Linked DNA regions of Homo sapiens. The protein of the gene in region 2 purifies or fractionates together with the protein of the main gene of each other region. This does not show direct contact. Each region holds a gene or a part of one and is shown on either strand. Other genes may lie near its edges.

What was found. Proteins that work in one complex are often made in the same cells at the same time.
Region 1: the proteins of SLAIN2 (region 2) and TACC3 purify together in Homo sapiens (co-immunoprecipitation; 4 studies listed by BioGRID and IntAct, with this or other methods). This does not show direct contact.
Region 3: the proteins of SLAIN2 (region 2) and PCDHA10 purify together in Homo sapiens (affinity purification with mass spectrometry; 2 studies listed by BioGRID and IntAct, with this or other methods). This does not show direct contact.

What each region holds. Positions count from the first base shown.
Region 1 is NC_000004.12:1,717,080-1,724,536, forward strand, and holds the start of TACC3 (transforming acidic coiled-coil-containing protein 3), read left to right. Parts: upstream 1-4,441; 5' UTR 4,442-4,564; exon of another isoform or gene 4,565-4,837; intron 4,838-6,341; 5' UTR 6,342-6,342; coding exon 6,343-6,504; intron 6,505-6,622; exon of another isoform or gene 6,623-6,648; coding exon 6,649-6,791; intron 6,792-7,457. Other genes in the region: TMEM129 (E3 ubiquitin-protein ligase TM129), read right to left, coding at 101-349, 437-596, 1,073-1,547, 3,554-3,758. UniProt on the Homo sapiens protein: Plays a role in the microtubule-dependent coupling of the nucleus and the centrosome. Involved in the processes that regulate centrosome-mediated interkinetic nuclear migration (INM) of neural progenitors.
Region 2 is NC_000004.12:48,414,522-48,421,541, reverse strand, and holds part of SLAIN2 (SLAIN motif-containing protein 2), read right to left. Parts: intron 1,418-7,020; coding exon 1,099-1,417; intron 1-1,098.
Region 3 is NC_000005.10:140,851,072-140,858,912, forward strand, and holds the start of PCDHA10 (protocadherin alpha-10 isoform 1 precursor), read left to right. Parts: upstream 1-4,825; 5' UTR 4,826-4,977; coding exon 4,978-7,365; coding exon of another isoform or gene 7,366-7,512; exon of another isoform or gene 7,513-7,841.

The DNA of each region.
Region 1 (7,457 bases), about 47 Mb from region 2:
TTTAAGTAGAGCCCTTTGCCAGCCAGGAGGCCCAGCCACCCCCTTCCCTGCCCTGTGGCTTTGGGGGGAGACACAGAGTCACCTCAAGGCCCCAGCCCACTCAGCGCACGGTGCACACATCCAGGATGCAGAAGCGTGCGCGGCAGGTGGGGCAGGGCACGCGGCTGGCCAGCCAGGTGTCAGGGCGCAGGGGGTCCTGGCGGCTGGCGAACCACTTGCCCATGCAGGTGAGGCACCACATGGGGCGGCAGTAACACTGCTGGCACTCGCCTGTGGCTGCCTCCTGGCAGGTCTTCACCAGCTTCACGCTGGCACGTGTCTGCATGCAGCCTATGCAGGCCTCCAGCTCCTGCGGGCAGGTGGAGCGTCACCAGGAGCCCAGGCAGACACCCGTGGGCACCCACCCATCCACCCGGCCCTGGCCCAGGCCCCCCACCTGGCTGCTGGGCACTGAGTAGGCCGGGTTGACCTCTACCAGGGAGGCAAATGTCTCCAGGAACAGGTCGCCCAGGCTCTGGTGGATGACCACATGGGCTGCCCTGCGGATGGGTGCCCGGAGCTTCTCGCAGAGCTCCCCGTACTCAGTGGAGTTCAGCCTGCAGGGAGGAGAGCTGCTGGGCCCCTCTGCAGGGCAAAGGGAGCGGAAGATGGAGGCTACACCCCAAGGAGTGACAGGGCAGCTGTCGCACCAGGACCAACCAGGAGAGATGGCCCTAAGGCCAGAGCCCACGGACCCAGTGCCAGACAGCCCAGCCTGGGCACGGGACGGACCTAGGAGCAAGGCAGCTGTCCAGCCTGAGGGCTGCACTGTCCTGAGTGCTCCCCAAGAATCTGGGGGAGGTGGCTCCAGGGAGTGGAAGGGGAGGCCAAGAGTGCAGGGGGACCCGAGGGAGGGCTATGCGGGAGGGCTCAGTGACTGGTGTCTTGTGGACACCTTGCCTGGTGTCACACAAGCCCAGGAGTGTTGGAGTCCACACCAGCTACACCCAGCACCTCCCAGGGGTCGTGGCACCAGAGCCTGGCTCTGGCCTGCCATGTGCCCTCCGCAGCCCCACAGGCACCACACTCTTACCAGATGTCAAAGGCCTGCACAGCAGGGTTGGTGCTGGCCACACGGATGGTGAGGAGCTGCACGGGCAAGTTCGAGTCTGGCGAGAGCTCATGCTGCCGAGACTCCGTCACAGTCAGGTGCACGTCCTGCTGCTGGGCCACGTGCACTCGGTAGGTGGTTACCTTCATCACCCACGTGTCTGTCACAATCACACGGGCACCTGGTGCACCGGTGGCAAACTTGTCAATCCGCCGGAACTCAGTGTTGACAGAGGAGGCAACAGCCTGCCAGCCAGACTGTGGGAGGGCGTAGAGGGCCAGGGTGCGCGCCAGTGGGTGGCAGGCCCACCGGTCACGGGACCAGTAGTAGATCAGGATGCAGGCGATGGAGGGGAGGGTCACGGCCAGCAGCAGGAAGAGCCGCCAGGCCTCAGGGGCCTGGCTGAGGGCGTGGAGCCGCTTTTCTGAAGCCGCAAGGCACATGCCCACATAGTAGCCTGCAAAGGACAGGGTGAGCCTCAGGGGAAAGTGAGTGGCAGGCCGCTGTCCACCCCCCGACAGCCCTGGACCTGGCCCTCTGCCCGGGTTCCAGGGTCAGCTCCCAGGGTAATTGGGCTTTACCCACTCTGCACTTCCCCAGCCGGCCACTCTCTCCCTGCCTGTGGCAAAGGCAGGATATATTAGCGGAAAAGGTTTTTAATTTGCTGCTTTAGTTTCACACAATACGTAAGTGTTGAAAAAACTACAAAAGCCTAGAAAGGGAAAAATAAACACAATCAGGTGTCACCTCAGGCAGAGCTGACCCCTGGCCTGCCAGGGCAGCTGCCTGGACAGGATCTCAGTCTCTCAATCTCACCCGCTCTGAGGAGGCTGATCAAATGTGGTGCATCCCAGAGCTGAAAAGTTATGTGCGAGAAAGGAAGCAAGTCTCAAAGAATGATGGGACATGTCCAGAGGACACGGAGCCAGCTTCAGGGCCCTGCTGGCCAGATCGAGGACAATTTGAAGGTCCAAATAAGCCATGGAGATGGTGAGGAGTTGCACCAGCAGGTTCCAGTTGGCAAAAAGTAATAGTCCACATTTGGAGTTGGCCCAGTCACTGCATTTCAAGGTAACATGACATATAACAATAGGTAACTAGGGGCCGGGTGCAGTGGCTCACACCTGTAATCCCAGCACTTTGGGAAGCCGAGGCGGACGGATCACGAGGTCAGATCGAGACCATCCTGGCTAACACGGTGAAACCCCATCTCCACTAAAAAATACAAAAAATTAGCCGGGCGTGGTGGCGGGCGCCTGTAGTCCCAGCTACTCAGGAGGCCGAAGTTGCAGTGAGCCGAGATCATGCCACTGCACTCCAGCCTGGGTGACAGAGCGAGGCTCCGTCTCAAAAAGTAAAAATAAAAATAAAACAGGTAACTAATACCTAATAAAGCTTGAAAACTTTCAAACTAAGTTAAAAATAAAAAGAGCTTGACATCCGACTGTGAGGCCAGCTGTGCTGTCTGCTCCAGGTGTGGCTGCCACAATTCACTTGTGGTCCCTCATAGGCCTCTGGGGAGGGTGCAGCTGGAAGGGCTACAGAAACCCACCCAGTAGCCCTAGAAAGTGGCCTGGTCAGGGCCCCAGCCCCACTCAGCCCCATCCATCTCTCAAGTGGGCCCCCAGCCCACCCTCTCCATGAGGCAGGCCTGGGCGCCTCCACCCGACACCTGCCTCCAGTTCTTCTGGGCCCAGGCAGCTGCATCCTCAAACCAGGATGTGGAGGGTCACCCCTCTTGTATCCCCAGAGTGGCAAACCTGGCCAGCCACTGGCCATCTGTCCTCCCAGGGCTGCGTCTGCCCCCGTGTCCTCCAGAGGTACCCCCTTGAAATCCCCCTCCAGCCACTGCACACCCCACCTCCCACCTGTCCGTCATCCAATCAGCTGAGAGAGGGACCTTCCAGAGCCCCAGCTAGCACCTGGGGCCCAGCCCAGCACCCCCCTGGACAACTCTGAGCGTCCCACCTGCACTGCACAGAGGCCCTCCCCAGCCTCTGCCCCTGTGGCGCCCCCAAACTGGAACTGCCTCCAAATCCGCCTGTTCTCTCCACACCCACCTTCCAAGGCCTAGTGCAGTGCCACCCTCCACACAGCCCCTCCGACCCCTTCCGTTGGACTCAATCAACAGTTGCCTTCTCCTGGCCACTGCCCCCAACCACGACAAGCAAGGGCTGCTTGGCCTTGCAACCCCCAGGCACGTGACGGTTCAGGACTTGGTGGGCCGGAGCATCCCTTGCCCAAGGTTCTGAACTTGGGTTCCCGTCACCTGCAAGTCAGTGCCGGCGGCGCCCCTAAGCGCGCTCAGCCCACGCCGCGGTCCCTCTGGATGAGGACCGGCGCCTCTCCCCAGCTGCGCCCAGGCGCTTTCGGGGCCTCGGGGAGCTGGCGGAGGCCTCCTCCTGACCTCCCAGCAAGCCCTGCGCAGGAGAGGATGCGGCCGGCCGGCCCGAGCAGCCTCACCGAGCGGCAGCAGCGAGTGGCACAACAGCGTGGCGGCCGTGCGGCGCAAGTGGAAGGGCACGAAGGCGGCGTCCTCGCTGCCCAGCCAGCCCGACAGCAGGTTCTGCACCGTGAGCCCCGCCGCGTGGAACTCGTTGGGCGTGAACACGAAGCACACGGCGAACACCAGATAGGCGAGAGTGAAGGTCACCTCGGGGCTGTCCATCGCGCAGCCGCCGGGAAGCTGTCGAGCTAGGCCCCCGCCCCGGCGCGCGGACGAGGCCGCAGCGCCCAGTCCCGGACCTGTCGGTTGCGGCGGCCGCCGCCCGGCCGCCCGCGGGGCACTCTAGGACATGGAGTCCCGCCGCCCGGCCGCCCGCGGGGCACTCTAGGACATGGAGTCCCGCCGCCCGGCCGCCCGCGGGGCACTCTAGGACATGGAGTCCCGCCGCCCGGCCGCCCGCGGGGCACTCTAGGGCATGGAGTCCCGCCGCTCGGCCGCTCGCGGGGCGCTCTGGGAGATGCAGTCCCCGTGCGGGTGCGGCCTCTCTTCTCGGCCGGCCCTGGAGGCGGCACCGCACCTGTGCATTGAGCACAGGTGGGGAAACTTAGGCCTGAGCGAGGCCCTGGCCATGAAGCCCCGCCCAGTAGCGTCAGTTGCGGAACTCGAAATTCATGGGGCGACTGCGAGCCCGGGGTCTCAGCTTCAGACACCCTGGCGTGCCCTCCACTCCGGAAACGGAACCGTCGGCGCCCGAGCGGGGGGTGGGGGGGGAGGGAGGGCGGAGCCGGCGAGGCACAGCTTCCCATTGGACGCCCGCCCTCCTGCGGTCCTGCCCCCGGCCGCGCGCTGATTGGCCGCGCGAAGGCAACCGTCGGCGTTTGAAACTCCGGCGCGCCGGCGGCCATCAAGGGCTAGAAGCGCGACGGCGGTAGCAGCTAGGCTTGGCCCCCGGCGTGGAGCAGACGCGGACCCCTCCTTCCTGGCGGCGGCGGCGCGGGCTCAGAGCCCGGCAACGGGCGGGCGGGCAGGTAGGAGAGCGGCTACACGGCGCGGGGAGGCTGGGGTCCTGGGGGCGCGAGGCCGTCCCGCCCCGCCCCGCCCTCGGCCCTCGCCCTCCCGCCCCGGCCGCCGCTTTCCCCGGGAAGCGTCCCCCACGGCTCCTCCTGGGGCCGCCGCCAGAACCTGTACCGCGCCCTGTCATGGGACCCGGCCCTAGACCGACCGCCGGGCTGGGCCCCCTGGATGGTGGCCAGGGGCGGCTAGAGCTGGGCCAAGACCGACGGCGGAGCGGGCGCCCCGAGGTGCTTTGCTCTCCTCGACCCTCTCCTGTCTCTCGGTCGCCCACCTTGGCTCTTTGTTGGCTCCCAGCACGCGGACCCTCCTGTTGTTCTTTGGTCCCTTCCGGCCTCCGTCCTGGGGCCAACTCCATCTAGGCCGCCTGCGGCGGACACCTGGGCCCCTACCGCTTCCCCGCACCTGCTGCGCCGCTCCACCTTCCCCCCGCACCGCATCCCTCTTGTGCACCAGAGTAGCACCAAAGCACCAGCCTGGGGCCGGTCCCTTCTCTGCCCAGAGCCCCTCCCGGGCCTCCATAGTCAGTAAAGGCCCCTCCTGACTAAGGCTGGGTCTGCTGCTCTCCCGAGCTCCTCCAGGCCGCCAGAAGGCTTCCTCCGAGTCACTTTCTCCCTGAGTTCGAGGCTTGCGGGTCCCCCAGCGATCCAGCACCCCTTCCCCTGCCCTGTACCCAGTTATTCAGGGCGAAAACCTAAGCGTCGTCCGTAAGTCCCATATGTGCCAGTGGCCAGGCCCGGGTCTGGTCTGGCATCTACTCCTTGGGCTCCAGAAGCCTGTGGTTTCCCTGCTTCCCTTCTGCTCTTAACCTCCCCACCCACACACAGCACCACAGTGGGCTTCTCAAGCTGCAGCACCGACCTGCCGGGGCTGCCCCCTCTCTCTTCTCCAGGACCCTCCCCAACTTTGCTCTTCTTCAAATCAAAGCCTCCCCAGGTCCCCCTCCACCACCAGGTGCCTGTGGGGTTCCTGCCCTGGTCGACACTCGGTTCTCTCTGGCAGCCTTTTTCCCTACGTCATTCCCTAGACTGGGAACGCTGTAGACAGAAAGGGTGGCAAGTGTGTGGGTGACCGGCGTGAGGACCTGGGCAGCCCTGGAACCTGGGACTGACTGGAGGCTCTGATGTGGAAGTTCCTTGGCACCTGTTGCTCAGCTCTGGGCTTCCCTTGTTTGCGCATCGTCTCCCAGCTCCTCCTCTGGGCCTTCACCCTCTCAGCCTGGTCTTGTCCCGCTGCCTAGCCCGGTGGGAGAGAGCAGACCAGAGCCGCTGTCCTGCTTTTCTGCCCTCTACTGCCCGGTCCTGCCTCACGTCACACGCAGAGGCCTGTGGGGAGACCAGGGCTTCCTCTGGCTCATCCGGGTTTCTTATTGGCCCGGGCTTTTCCGTCTCTTGACTTCTGCTTGATATAGTAATACAGCAGTAGAGATTATGCAGGCTTGGGTTTTCTTTCTCACCATCTCAGCCTGAAGGCCCTTTAGCTCTTGGTCCCAGGAAGCAGCAGTGCTGCCCATGGCTCCCCCTGCCAGGCTGGAGAGTGAGTCTCTGAAGCAAGATGGGGACTCAGTCTGAGGCTTTCTCTGCCAAGAGACACGTGTGGGAGGTGTGAGTTCCAGAGCAATGAGCACACCTGTGTGGGAAGTGGTCGTGCCCCTTGCAGCAGCTGTCACGTCTGTGTCTGGACAATGTGGTAGTGTTGCCCTCACACTGACACAAACATGTTCTGCTTTTCCAGAATGAGTCTGCAGGTCTTAAACGACAAAAATGTCAGCAATGAAAAAAATACAGAAAATTGCGACTTCCTGTTTTCGCCACCAGAAGTTACCGGAAGATCGTCTGTTCTTCGTGTGTCACAGAAAGAAAATGTGCCACCCAAGAACCTGGCCAAAGCTATGAAGGTAAGTGTGACCTGTACAGTGTGTGGCTGGCCAGGTTGCCCTAGGGCCTGCTTTCTTGGTGACCTCTGAGCTGCAGGACACTGCTGGTGTGGCTGTAACAGCTTGAACTAATGAATAGGTGCTCTCCTCCTCACTCCGCAACAGGTGACTTTTCAGACACCTCTGCGGGATCCACAGACGCACAGGATTCTAAGTCCTAGCATGGCCAGCAAACTTGAGGCTCCTTTCACTCAGGATGACACCCTTGGACTGGAAAACTCACACCCGGTCTGGACACAGAAAGAGAAGTAAGTGTTGGTGCTGCTGGACATGCTGGAGCTTCACCCTCTCTGTCCGATGGTTCTTGCAGGAAAGTGCTGTCTTGTTCTATCAGGCCTTGGCTGGATTTTTTGTTTGTTTGTTTGAGATGGAGTCTCGCTCTGTTGCCCACGCTGGAGTGCAGTGGCGCGATGTCCGCTCACTGCAAGCTCCGCCCCCCAGGTTCATGCCATTCTCCTGCCTCAGCCTTCCAAGTAGCTGGGACTACAGGCGCCTGCCACCACGCCCGGCTAATTTTTTTGTATTTTTAGTAAAGAAGGGGTTTCACCGTGTTAGCCAGGATGGTCTTGATCTCCTCCTGACCTCATGATGCGCCCGCCTTGGCCTCACAAAGTGCTGGGATTACAGGTGTGAGCCACCACGCCCGGCCGGCCTTGGCTGGATTTCTCCTGAAATCTGCACTGAGTGTATGCAGCATATGGCCAGTTCACTAACAGAAAAGTCGATCATCAGATACTTGGATAACTTCATACTTCACTTTTTTTTTTTTTTTTTTTTTTTTTTCTGGAGACAGAGTCTGGCTCTGTCACCCAGGCTGGAGTGCAGTGGCTCGATTTCGGCTCACTGCAAACTCCACCTCCCAGGTTCATGCCATTCTCCTGCCTCAGCCTCCCGAGTAGCTGGGGCTACAGGCG
Region 2 (7,020 bases):
TTTCAATATCCTCTTTTGAAAAATAGAAATAAGAATACCTACTCATTTAATATTATTATGAAGATTAAACAAAGCAAGCATTTACTTATTTAGCACAGTGATAAATATTTCCAGTTTAATTATATTTGACACCAAAGTTTACTGATGGTGGTAATCCCATTCTTGAAAGGTTACAGATGCATCATTCCCAACCTGTCTGATTCAGAATCATCTGAAGATTACGCAAACAAACAACAAACAAACAAAAAAACCAGCAACTGTAATCCCAGCATTCTGGGAGGCTGAGGCAAGCAGATCACTTGAACTCAGGAGCTCCAGACAAGCCTGGGCAACATGGTAAAACCCCATCTCTACAAAAATTAGCCAGGCATGGTGGTGTGCGCCTGTAGTCCCAGCTACAGGGGGTGCTGAGGTGACAGGATTGCTTGAGCCTGGGAGGTCAAGGCTGCAGTGAGCCAAGATTGCACCACCGCACTCCAGCCTGGGAGACAAAGCAAGACCCCATCTCAAAACAAAAACAAAACAAAAACAAAAACAAAACAAAAAACAACAACAAAATACCTAGCACACCCACAGATTCTGGGCCTCATAACAGATCTACTAAGTTAGACTCTCTGAAGGTAAAACTTACACCCTACATTTATATAAATCTCACAGATAATTCTGAATTATAGAATAAGGGTTTGAAAACCATGCTTATAGATTATACTCAGACTTGGTAGCTAGAAGTTTTATCTTAAATATCACTCTATATTCTAATATACCTTTATCATCTTTATTGAATATAATTATATTCGAAATGAATGAATATCACAATCAAATTGAGAGGCTCTAACAATTTTTTTTCTAGGGGTCCTCTGAGATGCTTAATCACGTTAGGCAACTGGACAAATTTAATCTGAACCAAACTGGTAAAAGTCCCAAATGAGGATTTCTTAAAAACAATGTAGTAAAGTTTTATTCAAATGGTACTAAAACTCTGGTGGGAATCCACCATGACTTTCTGTTTACTATCAAACATACGGATGAAGCTAATTCATTCCAGTCTATCCACTTTCAGGCACTCAAGAATGCTGAAACAGAACATCTGCCACTTACCTGCGAACAGGCTGTGCAAGTTTGCTGCGAGGCACTGGTATGCCCCCAGCAGAAGGGGCACTGGGTCTGGGCAAGCCACTTCTCATTGCAGTTGTCCCTGCAGGTCTGGTTAGAGTAGCGCTGTTGATATTGCTGGGAGGATTTGCTGAGACTGTGCTCTGAACCATAGGAGGCCCAGGTGAGGAGGTGGTTTGTGTGAGCTGTGTTATTTCTTGGCTACCAGGAGAACCAGAGCCATGGTTACTAAATGCTTTCACTGGTTGCCGAAGAGCCAAAGGAGATGGTGCTGCAGGGGAACGGAATTTGCCTGGAGAAGGTACTGTGGGATGGCAAAGAAAAACCAATTTTTGAGTGGAAATCTGTATATATGAAACCATTGCTTTAAATTACAACTGATGATTGGGCACTAGTACATGTGTATTCAGGAAACTTCACAGCAATGCAAACAATAAAAGCTATTCCTGGGCTACTAAAAGAAAAAAAGTAACTGTGAGTTCTAAATGACCAAGTACTTAGAGGATTACAACTGTCTTTGACAACAGTATTTTAAATAGGCCAGCTTGGAATCCATAATACCAGAAGAGAAAAGGCACTGCAGGATTCTGTCTCACAGTAGCAACTAATGTGGGCCACATATGAACAAACATTCTAGAGGTGAAAAACAGGTTGACTACCCAACTGTTGTCTAGAATTTGAAATGTATTTCCCCTGAAAAGAAACATTCACGTAAACATGTATCAAGTATCTGGAGGCTCTATGTCCAAATCCCATATTACTGACACTGTAACTAAAAATTTAGAAACTAAAAATCATTTTTAAAAAGTGCTTCCATTGCTGTGCTTCACAAAGCACAACATGATGAAAAAACAAACAAAAAGGCAGCTGGGCATGGTGACATGCACCCATAATCCCAACTACTCAAAACTGAAGCAGGAGAACTGCCTGAACCAGAGATGCAGAGGCTGCAGTGAGCCGAGATGATGCCACTGCACTCCGGCCTGGGTGACAGAGCAAGACTCTGCTTCAAAAAGAAAAAAGAAGATCAGGCGTGGTAACTCACACCTGTAATCCCAGCACTTTGGGAGTCCGAGGCGGGCGGATCACCTGAGGTCAGGAGTTCGGGACCTGCCTGGCCAACATGGTGAAAAACCCATCTCTACTAAAAATACAAAAATTAGTTGGGGGTGGTGGTGCATGCTTGTAGTCCCAGCTACTTGGGAGGCTGAGGCAGGAGAACTGCTTGAACCCAGGAGGCGGAGGTTGCAATAAGCGGGGATCGCGGTACTGCATTCCAGCCTGGGCAACAGAGCGAGACTCTGTCTCAAAAAAAAAAAGGAAAACAGAAAAAAGCTTATGTCCACACAAAGACTTGACTACAACTTTGTAACAGCCAAAGACTGAAAAAAGCTCAAATGTCCATCAACACATGAATGGATAAACAATTTGTAGCATATCCACGCAACAGAATACCGCTCAGCAGTAAAAAGGAGTAAACTACTGATGTATAGAACAAAGATGAATATCAAAAATTTTGCTGAATGAAATGAGTGCCAGACACAAAACAGTCCGTGTGTACATACACACACACACACTGTAGAATGTTGTGTTATAAAGAAATTTGAGGAAAGTCATATCTAATTTATGGTAACAAGCAGCAGAACAAATGTTTGTTGGAGGTTGGGAGCAACCTTGGGAAATTCCACCAAATGTTTAAGAATGAACACAAATTCAACATAATCTCCGTCACAAAATAGGAAAGAACATGTCCCAATTCATTTTATGAAGCCAGTATTACTGAGATACCAAAACTAGAAAAGGACAGTATCAAAAAAGAAAACTTCGGATCAATATTGTTTACAAATATAGATGTAAAAATCCTTAAAAAAATATTAGAAAATAGAATCCAGCAATATATAAATAGATTTATATGCCATGACTAAGGAGGATTTATTCCAAGATGCAAGGTTGGTTCAATATTTGAAAATCAATCAGTGTAATCCACAGTAACAGGATGAAGAAAAATCACAGAATTGTAACAGCGGACTCAAAAAAAGCATCTGACAAAATTCAACACAGTCATGAAAAAAGTTCTCCGAAAAACAGAAATAGGGAAAATTTCCTCAACCTCATAAAGAACATCTACAAAAACCCTACAGTTAACATTATACTTAATGAAGAAAGATTGAATGCATCTCCCCTAAGACCAGGAACAAGACAAGAACATACGCTCTTACCACTAATTCTAGCCAGTGCAATAAACAAGAAAAAAAAAAAAGAAGAAGAGGGAGAAGGAAGGAGAAAGAAGGAGGAAGGAGAAAGAAGGAGGAAGGAGGGAGGAAGAGGAGGAAGAGGAAGAAGAAGAAGAAGAAATAATAATAAAAGGCACAGAGGTTAGAAACTGTCCCCATGGTTGTCTACACAGAAAATCCCAATGAATCTACACACACACACACTTCTAGAAATAATAAGTGAATTCAGTAAGGTCACAGAACTGGATAAAAATACAAACACTGACTATGTTTCTATATGCCAGCAACGAACATTAGAAATCAAGATTAAAAATACCACACCATAGATAGCTCTTATTATTTTGAAATACATCCCATCAATACCTAATTTATTGAGAGTTTTTAGCATGAAGGGTTGTTGAATTTTGTCAAAGGCTTTTTCTGCATCTATTGAGATAATCATGTGGTTTTTGTCTTTGGCTCTGTTTATATGCTGGATTACATTTATTGATTTGCGTATATTGAACCAGCCTTGCATCCCAGGGATGAAGCCCACTTGATCATGGTGGGTAAGCTTTTTGATGTGCTGCTGGATTCGGTTTGCCAGTATTTTATTGAGGATTTTTGCATCAATGTTCATCAAGGATATTGGTCTAAAATTCTCTTTTTTGGTTGTGTCTCTGCCCGGCTTTGGTATCAGAATGATGCTGGCCTCATAAAATCAGTTAGGGAGGATTCCCTCTTTTTCTATTGATTGGAATAGTTTCAGAAGGAATGGTACCAGTTCCTCCTTGTACCTCTGGTAGAATTCGGCTGTGAATCCATCTGGTCCTGGACTCTTTTTGGTTGGTAAACTATTGATTATTGCCACAATTTCAGAGCCTGTTATTGGTCTATTCAGAGATTCAACTTCTTCCTGGTTTAGTCTTGGGAGAGTGTATGTGTCGAGGAATTTATCCATTTCTTCTAGATTTTCTAGTTTATTTGCGTAGAGGTGTTTGTAGTATTCTCTGATGGTAGTTTGTATTTCTGTGGGATCGGTGGTGATATCCCCTTTATCATTTTTTATTGTGTCTATTTGATTCTTCTCTCTTTTTTTATTAGTCTTGCTAGCGGTCTATCAATTTTGTTGATCCTTTCAAAAAACCAGCTCCTGGATTCATTGATTTTTTGAAGGGTTTTTTGTGTCTCTATTTCCTTCAGTTCTGCTCTGATTTTAGTTATTTCTTGCCTTCTGCTAGCTTTTGAATGTGTTTGCTCTTGCTTTTCTAGTTCTTTTAATTGTGATGTTAGGGTGTCAATTTTGGATCTTTCCTGCTTTCTCTTGTAGGCATTTAGTGCTATAAATTTCCCTCTACACACTGCTTTGAATGCGTCCCAGAGATTCTGGTATGTGGTGTCTTTGTTCTCGTTGGTTTCAAAGAACATCTTTATTTCTGCCTTCATTTCGTTATGTACCCAGTAGTCATTCAGGAGCAGGTTGTTCAGTTTCCATGTAGTTGAGCGGCTTTGAGTGAGATTTTTAATCCTGAGTTCTAGTTTGATTGCACTGTGGTCTGAGAGATAGTTTGAAAACTGGCACAAGACAGGGATGCCCTCTCTCACCGCTCCTATTCAACATAGTGTTGGAAGTTCTGGCCAGGGCAATCAGGCAGGAGAAGGAAATAAAGGGTATTCAATTAGGAAAAGAGGAAGTCAAATTGTCCCTGTTTGCAGACGACATGATTGTTTATCTAGAAAACCCCATCGTCTCAGCCCAAAATCTCCTTAAGCTGATAAGCAACTTCAGCAAAGTCTCAGGATACAAAATCAATGTACAAAAATCACAAGCATTCTTATACACCAACAACAGACAAACAGAGAGCCAAATCATGGGTGAACTCCCATTCACAATTGCTTCAAAGAGAATAAAATACCTAGGAATCCAACTTACAAGGGATGTGAAGGACCTCTTCAAGGAGAACTACAAACCACTGCTCAAGGAAATAAAAGAGGACACAAACAAATGGAAGAACATTCCATGCTCATGGGTAGGAAGAATCAATATCGTGAAAATGGCCATACTGCCCAAGGTAATTTACAGATTCAATGCCATCCCCATCAAGCTACCAATGACTTTCTTCACAGAATTGGAAAAAACTACCTTAAAGTTCATATGGAACCAAAAAAGAGCCCGCATCGCCAAGTCAATCCTAAGCCAAAAGAACAAAGCTGGAGGCATCACACTACCTGACTTCAAACTATACTACAAGGCTACAGTAACCAAAACAGCATGCTACTGGTACCAAAACAGAGATATAGATCAATGGAACAGAACAGAGCCCTCAGAAATAATGCCGCATATCTACAACTATCTGATCTTTGACAAACCTGAGAAAAACAAGCAATGGGGAAAGGATTCCCTATTTAATAAATGGTGCTGGGAAAACTGGCTAGCCATATGTAGAAAGCTGAAACTGGATCCCTTCCTTACACCTTATACAAAAATCAATTCAAGATGGATTAAAGATTTAAACGTTAGACCTAAAACCATAAAAACCCTAGAAGAAAACCTAGGCATTACCATTCAGGACACAGGCGTGGGCAAGGACTTCATGTCCAAAACACCAAAAGCAATGGCAACAAAAGCCAAAATTGACAAATGGGATCTAATGAAACTAAAGAGCTTCTGCACAGCAAAAGAAACTACCATCAGAGTGAACAGGCAACCTACAACATGGGAGAAAATTTTCGCAACCTACTCATCTGACAAAGGGCTAATATCCAGAATCTACAATGAACTCAAACAAATTTACAAGAAAAAAACAAACAACCCCATCAAAAAGTGGGTGAAGGATATGAACAGACACTTCTCAAAAGAAGACATTTATGCAGCCAAAAAACACATGAAGAAATGCTCATCATCACTGGCCATCAGAGAAATGCAAATCAAAACCACTATGAGATATCATCTCACACCAGTTAGAATGGCTATCATTAAAAAGTCAGGAAACAACAGGTGCTGGAGAGGATGTGGAGAAATAGGAACACTTTTACACTGTTGGTGGGACTGTAAACTAGTTCAACCATTGTGGAAGTCAGTGTGGCGATTCCTCAGGGATCTAGAACTAGAAATACCATTTGACCCAGCCATCCCATTACTGGGTATATACCCAAAGGACTATAAATCATGCTGCTATAAAGACACATGCACACGTATGTTTATTGCGGCACTATTCACAATAGCAAAGACTTGGAACCAACCCAAATGTCCAACAATGATAGACTGGATTAAGAAAATGTGGCACATATACACCATGGAATACTATGCAGCCATAAAAAATGATGAGTTCATATCCTTTGTAGGGACATGGATGAAATTGGAAACCATCATTCTCAGTAAACTATCGCAAGAACAAAAAACCAAACACCGCATATTCTCACTCATAGGTGGGAATTGAACAATGAGATCACATGGACACAGGAAGGGGAATATCACACTCTGGGGACTGTGGTGGGGTCGGGGGAGGGGGGAGGGATAGCATTGGGAGATATACCTAATGCTAGATGACACATTAGTGGGTGCAGCGCACCAGCATGGCACATGTATACATATGTAACTAACCTGCACAATGTGCACATGTACCCTAAAACTTAGAGTATAATAAAAAAAAAAAAAAAAAAAATACCACACCAATTGCATTGCTTGAAAAGA
Region 3 (7,841 bases), on a different chromosome or scaffold from region 2:
ATAAACTGTATATTAAATAGATATTTTTTGGGTGCTGAATCAATTTTATTTAAATTTGTGATTAAAGTGACATTGAATTTCTGATGCTATGCTGCCATAACACTTGAAAACCAATTTAGTTGTTAGTCATTCATTAAACATTAACATCACTATCATTTATTTATTGCTAAATGATGCATAGTATTTTAGTCTACTTGTATTGTTTATAAGAAACCCAAGCAAAAATATATAGCAATTGTTACCTTGTTAAGTTTGTAGTTCTCTACATTTCTCTGGATGGAGACTGTGAACATCTGATTGTTCAGCAACCTTCAGTATCTATTATTTTAATAAGAAAGAAACTTCCCCTAAACTTTAGAAAACAGTTGCTCCACTTTAGGAATCAAATTATGTCAATAAATGTTATAAACACAGCCTTCATTTCAACTTATATAAAATATGTTTTAAAATGCCTGACAATGTAGATAATTCAAGAAATGTTGACTGAAATTTTGTCTACACTTAGAACATTTTTTGAAATTCAGTTTACAGAAATTGGAGAAAATGCTTTTTAAACAAGTGTTTCCTTTCTTCAAGAAGACATTCTCCTTTTAATTGAAATTTTCTCCATTCAGTGATAAAATGATCAGCCATGTGAAGATTCGAAACTTCGAGTTCTTTTGAAATTCAGAGTCTGTAACTTAAAACATTACCCTTATGAATTTAGATGAGAATTCACTTGTTCTGTCAGTAATCCATAAGACAGAAATCTGTTTTTTTAAAAATATCTTTTTCTCCTCTCAGCTCATACATAACACAAGGCAGAAATCTGGATATGAGATTTGCCTCTTTAATGTCACTACATGTTATGTTTCCTGAATTGTAGTATGTGACTTTCAAAATGGTGGTTTTCCACACTCTACCTTTAGTGCAAGCTATTTGTTTGTTTTCTAATTTATAGTTTTAAAAACTTCGCTTATTGAGTTTTTGTTATGTGGTTTATATTTTTCTTTCTCTTTCAGCTATTTTATTTAATATTGTGTCAGATATTTTACAAGGTATGACCTAATTAAAAACTCAGTAGAGAAAGATCAGAATGGCCTTGAGAATAGAGCCACAAAAATAACTATGAAAATGCCAGTAACGTTTATTTAAAACAAAATATTTTAATTTTTAAATTTTCCCTTAAAACACACTTTTGGAATATGCTACAATATTACATGTTTTTTGTCTTTTTATTTTTCTGAGACGGAGTCGTTTTCTGCCACCCAGGCTGGAGTACAGTGGCATGATCTTGGCTCACTGCAACGTCTGCCTCCTGGGTTCAAGCAATTCTCCTGCCTCAGCCTCCTGAGTAGCTGGGATTATAGGCACATGCCACCGCGCCCAGCTAATTTTTGTATTTTTAGTAGAGATGGGGTTTCATCATGTTGGCCAGGTTGGTCTCGAACTCCTGACCTTGTGATGCTCCCACCTCGGCCTCCCAAAGTGCTGGGATTAAAGCTGTGAGCCACTGTGCCAAGGCTTTTTTATTTTTTTTTTTTGTCATTTTCTTTCAAAACTTGAGTGGTCTCTGAGCTCCTGTCATTAAACCTATCTATATCTGTCTATCAGCACAACTCACCTTGAATATAGTCTTATACTTTCAAGTATCTTTGTCTTTGCACGTTTTTCAAGTTTCATGTGCCATTTAAACTTGGACCCAGGTATCTGATTATTTGATGTGAATAGAGGGATGCTACAGATGTCATTTGTCTCCCGCCCTAAGTCCTCCAGTCTCCTTAGAGCTAGTACTTACTAAGCATTTACTATGTCATCAATAATCATAAAACGTATTTTTTTTTTTGAGTCAGAGTCTCGCTCTGTTGCCCAGGCTGGAGTGCAGTGGTGCCATCTTGGCTCACTCCAAGCTCCCCCTCCCGTGTTCACGCCATTCTCCTGCCTCAGCCTCCCGAGTAGCTGGGACTACAGGCGCCTGCCACCATGCCCGCCTAATTTTTTTGTATTTTTAGTAGAGATGGGGTTTCACCGTGTTAGTCAGGATGGTCTCGATCTCCTGACCTCATGATCCTCCCGCCTCAGCCTCCCAAAATGCTGGGATTACAGGCGTGAGCCACCGCGCCTGGCCTAAAATGTGTTCTTTATTATTGACGGCTGTATTGATGGGATTGGTAATTTAGTCCTTCATATTAATCTCTATTCTCTCTCAGAGTACAAGCTCTCATCATATGCAAATTCTCAGAAGGGCTGTGAACACCTTAGTAATAAATTTATCTTTTGAGGTCATTAGCAAACATGAACTCACAGGGATCCAGAGATGGTAAAATTCAAAACAGCCTGTCAAGTTCAAAACAGAGAGGTGAAAGCAGAAGAGACACTTTCCTATTTTGCCTAATAGGTCTCCTTATATGCATCTGTAGTTAACATTCCTCAATTCAAGTTAGAATCATGAAACAATAATGAAGCTCCTCCTATGTCTCTTTTCAAGTTGTAATTACTATATAGGAAAAACTAAGTTGTCACCCAATATCTTAGACACTTTGAGAGCAAAGGGGGTGCTGTAAATAAGTATACAAGATCACAGACCTAAATTGAGCCTGTTCCAGACAAATTGGGGCCTATGGTCAACCTATCCTTAGACCTGCTAACGCATTAGCATTAGCAGCACCTAAGTCCTCATTGAATGTTCTGGTTCAAGGCTCCACCTCAGAAATTCTGAAATGGGTAGTAAGAGCAAATTTTCATTTTAAAGCACACCTGAGATGATTCTCATACAACCGAAATTTTAGATCCATAGCCCTATTTGATACTTGACAGTGCAAGTTTCTGTAATTTAAAAAGATGTGGTGGCCTGACACCTGCAATCCCAACATTTTGGGAGGCCAAGGTGGGAGGGTCCCTTCCTTGAGCCCAGCAGTTTGAGACCAATGTAGTGAGACTCATCTCTGCCAAAAAAAAAAAATTAGCCGGGCATGGTGGCACACATCTCTAGTCCCAATTACTCAGGAGGCTGAGGCGAGAGAATCGCTTGAGCCTGGGACATTGAGGCTGCAGTGAACTGTGATGGCACAACTGCATTTCAGCCCGGGTGACAGCAAGATTCTGTCTCAAAAAAAAAAAAAAAAAGAGTAGTTTAACTACTCCCTACTTTTTATTCAATATTGGACATCTACATTGGGATATTTATGTTATCACTTGGTATAAAATGTACATTAGTAGAAATTGAGTTTAGTTTTTATTATTTTGTGCGTGGAGATGATTGATCAATGGCAAACTTATTTTACGCTCCAGATAGCTAAAACAAACGTTGATATTTTGATACATAACTCATTACATTTTAATTCAGGGTTTATAAAAAAGTAATCTCTAAAATCAGAATTTGAATGAATTTTGATGCAAGAGGCATTCCAGAGGAGTAGAGAAGTATAGAAACAGAATTTAGTAGGACACATAAACTGATGGATTAAGTGACACCCATTTCTGTCAGTTTTCTTATTCATAAATATTGTTGCTCTGTCATTCAGATTTTAATAAAAAAAGTTTAAAGTAATTGACACATTTAAAAATATTCTTTAGAAAAGTCAAAACATCATTAAATAAAATAAATTAACCCTTGCATAAGACCAATATGTCTGTTGTTAAGTTTTCCTTTCTTGGAAAGACAGAAAACTCAAGTTTTTTTCAGCAGCACAGATATATTACATTTTCATTCCTGAATATTTGATTTCAAGAACTTTGAGAGAGAAAAAAATATTTTTACTGCAAGTGGTGATGAAAAACTTCACTGACATTGATAAAATTACTAGATATATTTCAGAACTGTGTCTTTTGGGCATTTGAAAAGCGTAAATATAACAGGGTTGAAAGCATTTGCCTCTGAAAGCAGAAATAATAAATTTCTTAATTACTTTATTCAGAATTATAATTAAGATTCTTTTTGCCCGTGTAAGATATTATAAAATGAAACTTCTTGTATAAAGGATTTTTCTGTAATAGTACTTTTCTGTTTTCTTAAATACAGAAACCACCACTCTCAGCCTGTGCAGTAGCAATAATTAAGGCATTCTATAGGTAATAATTTTGCCTGATGAGCCAAATTTGGTATTGAGCCTCATGAAAACAAATGTGGCCAAATTGAGGCCTGAGAATAGTTTCCATTTATGAAGCACTCATTCTCCTTAAGGTACTATTGCAAGCACTTACTATATTATAATTCACTCAACCACCGTATTACTATTAGGCCAAAGTTATAAAATTGGAACATGAGGGAGGGAGAGGTTAAACGATTTTCCCAAGTCATGTGGCTAGTGAGTAGGATAATAGGAATCTAAATGGAGAAATGTCTGATGTTGAAGCTAATGATCTCTAAATTCTAGTGATGACTAGATCTTCGGAGTTATAAACACCTCACAGATAGTTGATGCTTGACATTAGTGTCTAAATAAACCTTATTAAATCTCAAAATAATGAGAAAGAGAAGTAAGTTAAGTGTCAGAACTTAAATGGAACTAAAGTTGTCATTTAATAAAATATTAGTATACTCAGTAGTATGCAAATATTAAGGGCATTTTGAAATTCGGCTATTGATAATCATGTGGTTAGGGAAGAAATCACTACTCTGAGAGTCTACATTTAAGAAAACATTGCACGTGGGATCAACATTTATTGTTATTAACTATAAAGAGACGTAATGTGAGGCTTTGAAAGTCCATAGACATAAAAATACGTAAAAAAAGAATTAACATATGAATGAAAGAAAAGTTGTGAACTCATGGAATCGTACTTACACCTAAAGCCACCGGATGTCGCTGTCGTCCACAAAATAGCTTTTTAGAACAAAGGCATCAGCCAGTTTCTCAAGGACTAGGAAGTAGCGTCATTCTGAGATCTCAGCCATTTCGATAAAAAATAGATATAAGAAATAGGACAGAAAATGTCAGATCGTATGTGCGTTCTAGACCGCTGATTCGTCGATTTGTAAAACAAGAGAAGGATAAGATGGTTTCCAGATGTAGCTGCCTGGGGGTCCAGTGTCTGCTGCTCTCGCTTCTTCTCCTCGCAGCCTGGGAGGTGGGGAGCGGCCAGCTCCACTACTCAGTCTACGAGGAGGCCAGACACGGCACCTTCGTGGGCCGCATCGCGCAGGACCTGGGGCTGGAGCTGGCGGAGCTGGTGCAGCGCCTGTTCCGGGTGGCGTCCAAAAGACACGGGGACCTTCTGGAGGTAAATCTGCAGAATGGCATTTTGTTTGTGAATTCTCGGATTGACCGCGAGGAGCTGTGCGGGCGGAGCGTGGAGTGCAGCATCCACCTGGAGGTGATCGTGGACAGGCCGCTGCAGGTTTTCCATGTGGACGTGGAAGTGAAGGACATTAACGACAACCCGCCCAGGTTCTCCGTAACAGAACAAAAGCTCTCAATACCTGAATCCAGACTGCTTGACTCTCGATTTCCACTAGAAGGCGCATCTGATGCGGATGTTGGAGAGAACGCATTGCTTACTTACAAACTCAGTCCAAATGAGTATTTTGTTCTTGATATTATAAACAAAAAAGACAAAGACAAATTCCCAGTGCTTGTTCTGCGGAAGCTGCTGGATCGTGAAGAAAATCCTCAGCTAAAGTTGTTGTTGACAGCAACTGATGGAGGCAAACCTGAATTTACCGGATCTGTTTCTCTGCTGATCCTGGTGTTAGATGCCAATGATAACGCCCCTATCTTTGACAGACCGGTTTATGAAGTTAAGATGTATGAAAATCAAGTGAACCAAACATTAGTAATACGGCTCAACGCTTCTGATTCGGATGAAGGAATAAACAAGGAAATGATGTATTCATTTAGCTCTTTGGTCCCACCCACGATAAGAAGGAAATTTTGGATAAACGAAAGGACGGGAGAAATAAAAGTAAATGATGCTATTGACTTTGAGGACAGTAACACTTATGAAATTCATGTAGATGTTACAGATAAGGGAAACCCACCTATGGTTGGTCACTGCACGGTCCTAGTGGAACTACTGGATGAAAATGATAATTCACCTGAGGTGATTGTCACTTCTCTGTCTCTCCCAGTGAAAGAAGATGCTCAAGTGGGCACCGTCATTGCCCTAATCAGCGTTTCTGACCATGATTCAGGAGCCAACGGACAGGTCACCTGCTCTCTGACGCCTCACGTTCCGTTCAAGCTGGTGTCCACCTACAAGAATTACTACTCATTGGTGCTGGACAGCGCTCTGGACCGCGAGAGGGTGTCGGCCTATGAGCTGGTGGTGACCGCGCGGGACGGGGGCTCGCCTCCGCTGTGGGCCACGGCCAGCGTGTCTGTGGAGGTGGCCGACGTGAACGACAACGCGCCTGCGTTCGCGCAGTCCGAGTACACGGTGTTCGTGAAGGAGAACAACCCGCCAGGCTGCCACATCTTCACGGTGTCTGCGTGGGACGCGGACGCGCAGGAGAACGCCCTGGTGTCCTACTCTCTGGTGGAGCGGCGGTTGGGCGAGCGCTCGCTGTCGAGCTACGTGTCGGTGCACGCGGAGAGCGGCAAGGTGTACGCGCTGCAGCCGCTGGACCACGAGGAGCTGGAGCTGCTACAGTTCCAGGTGAGCGCGCGCGATGGGGGCGTGCCGCCTCTGGGCAGCAACTTGACGCTGCAGGTGTTCGTGCTGGACGAGAACGACAACGCTCCCGCGCTGCTGGCGTCTCCCGCTGGCAGCGCGGGCGGTGCAGTCAGTGAGCTGGTGCTGCGGTCGGTGGTTGCGGGTCACGTGGTGGCTAAGGTGCGCGCAGTGGACGCTGACTCTGGATACAACGCGTGGCTGTCGTATGAATTGCAGTCGGCGGCGGTTGGTGCACGCATCCCGTTTCGCGTGGGGCTGTACACGGGCGAGATCAGTACGACGCGCGCTCTGGATGAGACTGACTCGCCACGCCAGCGCCTACTGGTGCTGGTGAAGGACCATGGCGAGCCGTCGCTGACGGCCACGGCCACTGTGCTTGTGTCGCTTGTGGAGGGCAGCCAGGCACCCAAGGCCTCGTCGCGGGCTTCAGTGGGCGTGGCGCCCGAGGTGGCCCTGGTGGATGTCAACGTGTACCTGATCATCGCCATCTGCGCGGTGTCCAGCTTGCTGGTGCTCACGCTGCTGCTGTACACTGCACTGAGGTGCTCGGCGGCGCCCACCGAGGGCGCATGTGGGCCGGTGAAGCCCACGCTGGTGTGCTCTAGCGCGGTGGGGAGCTGGTCTTACTCGCAGCAGAGGCGGCAGAGGGTGTGTTCTGGGGAGGGCCTGCCCAAGGCGGACCTCATGGCCTTCAGCCCCAGCCTTCCACCATGCCCAATGGTAGATGTGGACGGGGAAGATCAGTCTATTGGAGGGGACCACTCTAGGAAGGTGGGTTATTACGTTTTCATTTTCCTTTTGTGCTTTATGAATAATATTTTCTCTTACCGCATTTTCTCAAATATGTATCAGAATATTTCATTTTTGTCTACATTCCATTTATGCTTGAATATTTCTAGTGATACCTTTGTAATATAATTTATTCCAGGAGTTTTAAAATTTTTTTATCCTACCCAGTGTGTCAGCCTTTGATTGGTACTTAAATTTTTTTAAATAACAATTTATTCTGAATACACTAATATTTTCCAATACAAATATGTGATATAGGTTGCAGTTCTGACGATTTACTTTCATAATCACTTTTCGTTACAAATATTTGTGAGATTAGTACTTCATGTTATTTCATTTCCAATCTAAATTTTGATTTGATTGTATTTGCATTACCAAAAAATTCCACTGATCTATATCTCTTCAGTGAAAATGTGTTTTCCTCCATGTGTAGAATATGTGTAGCGTACCACAGCTTA